Regions from separate parts of the Homo sapiens genome. Here region 1 is linked to region 2. The links come from fine-mapping of genetic effects on gene expression. A gene starts in region 2. The other region holds a variant in brackets. All regions are shown on one strand. Distances are between the middles of the regions.

The links. PIP is the estimated chance that this variant, and not a neighbour inherited with it, causes the effect.
Region 1: its variant is fine-mapped to the expression of LINC01569 in monocytes after R848 (Quach 2016, PIP 0.95).

The regions. Positions count from the first base shown.
Region 1 is chr16:4,334,731-4,337,595 of GRCh38, reverse strand. GLIS2 (GLIS family zinc finger 2) reads right to left here. Exons shown (of 7, transcript NM_032575.3): 4 at 2,619-2,795; 5 at 2,403-2,536; 6 at 2,203-2,321; 7 at 1-871. The coding sequence ends at 72. Among named protein-coding and RNA genes, the nearest start is that of GLIS2-AS1, 7.8 kb to the right of the region's middle. The variant C/T (reference allele first, on the strand shown) is at 1,073.
Region 2 is chr16:4,252,428-4,255,281 of GRCh38, reverse strand. It overlaps LINC01569 (long intergenic non-protein coding RNA 1569), which reads left to right and starts at 1,493. Exons shown (of 3, transcript NR_039999.1): 1 at 1,493-1,635. RefSeq lists a silencer at 1,225-1,484 and enhancers at 1,715-1,924, 1,989-2,611.

The sequences.
Region 1 (2,865 bases), 82 kb before region 2:
AAGAGTTTCCGTTCGTCGGGGGCAGTGCCGGGAGCTGCCGGGGGGGCACCACAACTGTCCGCAGGATGGGCTCAGTTCACCACAGCCGGTTTGAGCAGCACCGAGCCCGGCGGGATGACCACCCAGCCAGGGGCCAACGCCTCTGGGCTGCTGGCAGCTGAGTTGACGCCCGTGGACAGGTCCAGCACGGTGCCTGGCAGCAGGGGGAGTCCATCGGGGCTTGGCCGGGAGCAGCTGCTCTCCGTCCTTTCAAGGGGCGTCTTGTGGCCCTCCATGCCCAGGGCCCTGGTGGGCACCGACCCACGCCCCTTCTCCCCCTCGGCCTTGCCACCAGCTGCGCCAGCAAGGAGGGAGACCACAGGCAAGCCCAGTCCGCCAGCCCCAAAGGGCGAGGGCAGCAGCGGGTTCTTGGCCAGATTGAGAGGCAGGACGGGGCCTGGCAGCCCAGGGCCCATGCCCCCCCCACCCCCACTGCCCCCACCGTTGCCACAGGCCAGGGCACTGAGGTCAAGGGGGCCGGGGGCCAGGGGTAGGGGTAAGCCGGGCAGGCCAGGGCCTCCAAAGAGGGCAGCTGGGTTGGGGATGATGATCTGGGCCCCACTGACATAGGGGCCGCCGTCGGGGGCGGGCAGTGGCGGCTTGGGGGGTGGGCGCAGCTGCAGGAGCTCTTGCTGCTCGTGGGACACAAAGTGGCCATGGGCCTTGATGTGCTTGCGCAGTGAGCTGGGGTCCGTGTAGCGCTTGTGGCAGCCGGGCATCTTGCAGTAGTAGGGCTTGTCCACATAGTGGGTGCGCGTGTGCTTAAAGCGGTCACTGGAGTTGGAATAGCGCTTGTTGCAGCCCTCGTAGGGGCAGACGTAGGGCTTCTCACCTGCAGGGTGGTGCAGTGCAGTGCCGCCATGAGGGGTCTCTCCCCTTCCTGGGTCTCACCCCATGCACTCAACATTTCCCCGGGCCAAGCACTCCCTGGGAACATAGATGCCCCAATTCTGGGGGCAGGGGGCATCCCCAGCACATGGCATGAGATCTGCCCCCAGGCAGGGCACAGAGGCTGAAAACTCAGCCTGGTTGA[C/T]TCCAGCTCTGCCTAGCCTCGCCCTGCACCCTCTGCTACAGAGGATGTGCCTTTCAGCAGCAGAACATGGCCTTGGAGGCCGGGCCCGGTGGCTCACGCCTGTAATTTCAGCACTTTGGGAGGCCAAGGCAGGCAGATCACTTGAGGCCAGGAGTTCCAGACCAGCAGGGCCAACATGGTGAGACCCCGTCTCTACTAAAACTACGAAAACTAGCTGGGTGTGGTGGCAGGTGCCTGTAATCCCAGCTACCTCAGAGGCTGAGGCAGGAGAATCACTTGAACCTGGGAGGCAGAGGTTGCAGTGGGCCAAGATCATGCCACTGCACTCCAGCCTGGGTGACAGAGTGAGTCTGTCTCAAGAAAAAAAAGACACCATGGCCTTGGAGATCACATCCTGGCACGAGGCGCCCAGCGTGGGCCTGGCCACAGGGAGTGCTGCCTGGGCGCTACTGCCCTCACTCAACAAATGGCTGAAGGTTCACCAGGCATCTTCTGCTGCCCTGGCCAGAGCAGGGGGCCACATGTAGTGACTGACCTCCTGATACATGGCTCTCCACCTGGAGATGTGCTGCCAGGGTGAAATAAACACCAGGAAAAAACATACACATCAGCTCCTTGAGGCTTTGTCATGAAATGAAGAACTTCAATATCTCACTGATTTGTCTTTAATAATGAATTGATAACACGTTGGATGTACCGGGGTCAACGAACCATATTACAATTAATTTCACCCATTTATTTTTGCTGTGTTTTATGCAGCGATTAGGAAATGTAAAATTATGTCTGTGGCTCTGACAACCAGAGCTGTCCTGGTATGGGCCTGGGCTGTAGTGAGGAGTGAAGCCGACCTGGCCTCTGCGATCACAGAGGTGGCATTAGTCAGAAGATACCCACGGGAACCAGGAAATGGCATTGGTGCTCCAAGAGCAGGTGCTGGGTGGGGGTCTGACCCCCAGGGGATGCTTCCCCTAGCAAACTGCATTGGAAAAGGGACCCCTGGGCGATGACATCAACCCTTATCTCTGAGGCCCGGGATTTACTTAACAGTCCCCTCCCCCTGGGGACCTGCCCAGCCGGTCTCAGCTGAGCGCCCCCTTCATGGGCCAAGCCGCCCGGCCCCGGCCTCTTACCTGTGTGCGACCGGTTGTGGATCTTCAGGTTCTCCAGGCGGGAGAAGCTCTTGCTGCAGGTCGGACAGCGGTGTGGCTTCTCGTTGGTGTGTGTGCGGATGTGGATGAGCATCTTGTACCTGCTCCAGGGAGGGCGGGGGGCACGGCTCAGCTCACTGGAGACCCCAGTCCTCCCTCTACCCCTCTCTCCCCCACCTCACCTGGCGTTGAAACCTCGGCCATGGCGGGCGCAGCCCTCCCAGTGGCAGCAGTACCCCGCATCCTTCTCGGGCTTGACATGGTAATCGTTGACATGGTCCACCAGGTCTTGCAGGAGCTCAAAGAGCTGGTTACACTGCGGAGGATGGGAAGTGTTCTGAGCCCATGCGGGGTGACCTGCCCCAGACTCCACACTACTCTTGCTGGCCCCCACTCACCTTGGCCCAGCGACACACCAGCTGCTTGGGCAGGGGCAGGTCTGGCGAGAGGCACTTGTCCTTGGGAGGGGTAAGGAAGGAGGAGGCAGGCAGGTGCAGGGCCCCCCCGGAGCCGAGGGGCAGGAAGAACTGGAAGGAGCTGGGGACACCATCCAAATAGCGCAGTGGCTGGAAGTCCTGGGGTGCGAGGGGAGGGCTAGTCAAGGTCCTGCTGGCCCAGAGCCCCCCGTCCCATCGGTAGTGGACT
Region 2 (2,854 bases):
CAGGAGTTCAAGACCAGCCTGGCCAACATGGTGAAACCCCAACTCTACTAAAATACAAAAATTAGGCTGGGCACAGTAGTGGTTCACGCCTGTAATCCCAGCAGTTTGAGAGGCCGAGGTGGGCGGATCACTTGAGGTCAGGAGTTTGAGACCAGCCTGGCCAACATGGTGGAACCCCGTCTCTACTAAAAATACAAAAATTAGCCTGGCATGGTGGCGAATGCCAGTAACTGTGGTCCCAGCTACTGGTGAGGCTGAGGCAGGAGAATCACTTGCACCGGGGAGGTGGAGGTTGCAGTGAGCTGAGATTGTGCCACTGCACTCCAGCCTGGGTGACAGGGCGACACTCCATCTTAAAAAATAAATAAATAAATAAATAATTTTTAAAAATGAAAGTAGTTACATTTAGTAGAAGTCACACTTTCTGATTTTTGGTTTTGCGTGTTTCCTACACGCAAATGCATAGTTTCCTACCCACCACTATGATCAAGATATGATTTAAAGAAAAAATAAAACAGGCCGGGTACGGTGGCTCACGCCTGTAATTCCAGCACTTTGGGAGGCCAAGGTGGGCGGATCACCTGAAGTCGGGAGTTCGACAGCAGCCTGACCAACATGGAGAAACCTTGTCTCTACTAAAAATACAAAATTAACCGGGCGTGGTGGCGCATGCCTGTAATCCCAGCTACTCGGGAGGCTAAGACACGAGAATCGCTTGAACCCAGGCGGCGGAGGTTGCGGTGGGCCGAGATCGCGCCATTGCACTCCAGCCTGGGCAACAAGAGCGAAACTGTCTCAAAAATAAATAAATAGATAAATAATAAATAAAACCAAAGCAAAATAAAAAAGATATGAATTAGTTCCTTCATTTCCAATGCCCCCCATGCCTCTTGGTGGTCAACCCAGCCCCTAGGAGCCACTGATCTATGTTGCCATAGTCTTACCTGTGACATGTCATAGAAATGGGATAACCCTGCCTTTTGAGCCTGGCTTCTTTGCACTGCAGCCAATTTTCTCTTGCTGAGATTATCCAGCTAAATTTACATAGGATCTGGCCCGGCACAGCGACCCCTTTCGGCCAGGTGCGAAACGGCAGGCCCGACGGTCCCCACGCAGCTCCTAAGAGGATCAACAGAGGGCGCAGTGCGCCCGGAACGCCCAGCCCCTGCGAAAGCGGAGGCTCCTCTCTCGGTCCCTGCGGGACAGCTCAGTTCTCATAGGCCAGAGGCGTGGCTTGGGGGCGGGCCAGGGGAATCCCACCTCCCCTTGCATGCTCAAGCGCGCCGGGCGATGGTAGGCGGTCTCACCCGCAGGCGGTGGAAGTCAGGGGCGCGGCTGCGGCCCCGCCCCTTCCCGGACTCGCCCCGCCCGTCCCCTCGCCGCGCATGTTCCCAGACGCCTCAGGCCATGGCGCGCGCGCTCCCGCCAGCACGCACGTCTGGCCCCGCCCCCGCGCCTGGCGCCCGCGCGCTCTCTCGCACGATCTGCTCCCGGACTCCTTCAGCGCGCTGCCTGCCTGCCCAGGGCCTTCCCGGAGAGCAGGTGACGGCGGCCTCCGGGCATGGAGCTCGCGCTGACGAAAGGTTCTGGAAGCCGCCGTAAAAAGTAATCAAGAAACGGGTGACAGGACTTTTCGTAAGACATTTAATTTTTACCCAGAGTATCCGAAACATTGCCGTGTCAATCTCAGTGCGATGGGAGACTGCCGGCCCCAAGGAGCTGCTCGTCCTTCTGCCGAGTTCCGGCCCGGACCCGCGGAGGAGGAGACCGCCGCGCCGGAGCTCGGACCTGACGTTTTTGTGAAGCACAGGGGGCGTGGGAGGGACCGGATCAATGCGGCACTCAACAAAACCTGTTTTTAAAAGAGTCGTGCTGTGTCGCCCAGGCTGGAGTGCAGTGACGCGATCTCGGCTCACTGCAGCCTCCACCTTCCGGGCTCAAGCGAGCCTCCCGCCTCAGCCTCCTGAGTAGCTGGGATTACAGGCACACACCTCCAGCTCGGCTGTTTTATTTATTTATTTTTTTTTTGAGACGTAATTTAGCTCATGTTGACCAGGCTGGAGTGCAGTGGCGCGATCTGGGCTCACCGCAACCCCCGCCTCCCGGGTTCAAGCGATTTTCCGCCTCAGCCTCCTGAGTAGCTGGGGTTGCAGGCATGCGCCACCACGCCCGGCTAATTTTGTACTTATAGTAGAGACGGGGTTTCTCCATGTTGGTCAGGCTGGTCTCGAACTCCCGACCTCAGGTGCTCCGCCCGCCTTGGCCTCCCAAAGTGCTGGGATTACAGGCGTGAGCCACCTCTCCAGGGCCAAAAGCCTTTTATTGGAGTACTGGGTAACACATTCAGAAGAGGGTGCATAGCTTAGGCGCTCCGTGAATTTTCACAAACTGAACATACACCCAGGTAGCCAACACCCCCAGCAAGCCCCAGAATCCCCTCATGCTTGCTTTCTGCCACTATCAAGCAGTTTGCTTTCTTTCAGATTTTTAAGTTTTGAAATAATTATTGAAATGTACAGGGAGAAGTCTGGGTTGGTGGTTCTAACCTGTAGTCTCAGCTACTAGAGAGGCTGAAGGGGGAAGATGGCTTTAGCCCTGGATTTCTAGACTAGCCTGGACAACATAGCAAGACCTCATCTCTATTTGTTTTTGAGACAGAGCCTCGGTCTGTCACCCATGCTGGAGCGCAGTGGACCTCCGCCTCCCGGGTTCAAGTGATTCTTCTTTCTCAGCCTCCCGAGTTATTTGGGATTACAGGTGTGCGCCACCACGCCCAGCTAATTTTTTTGTATTTTTAGTAGAGACGGGTTTCACCATGTTGGCCAGGCTGGTCTTAAACTTCTGACTTAAGGTG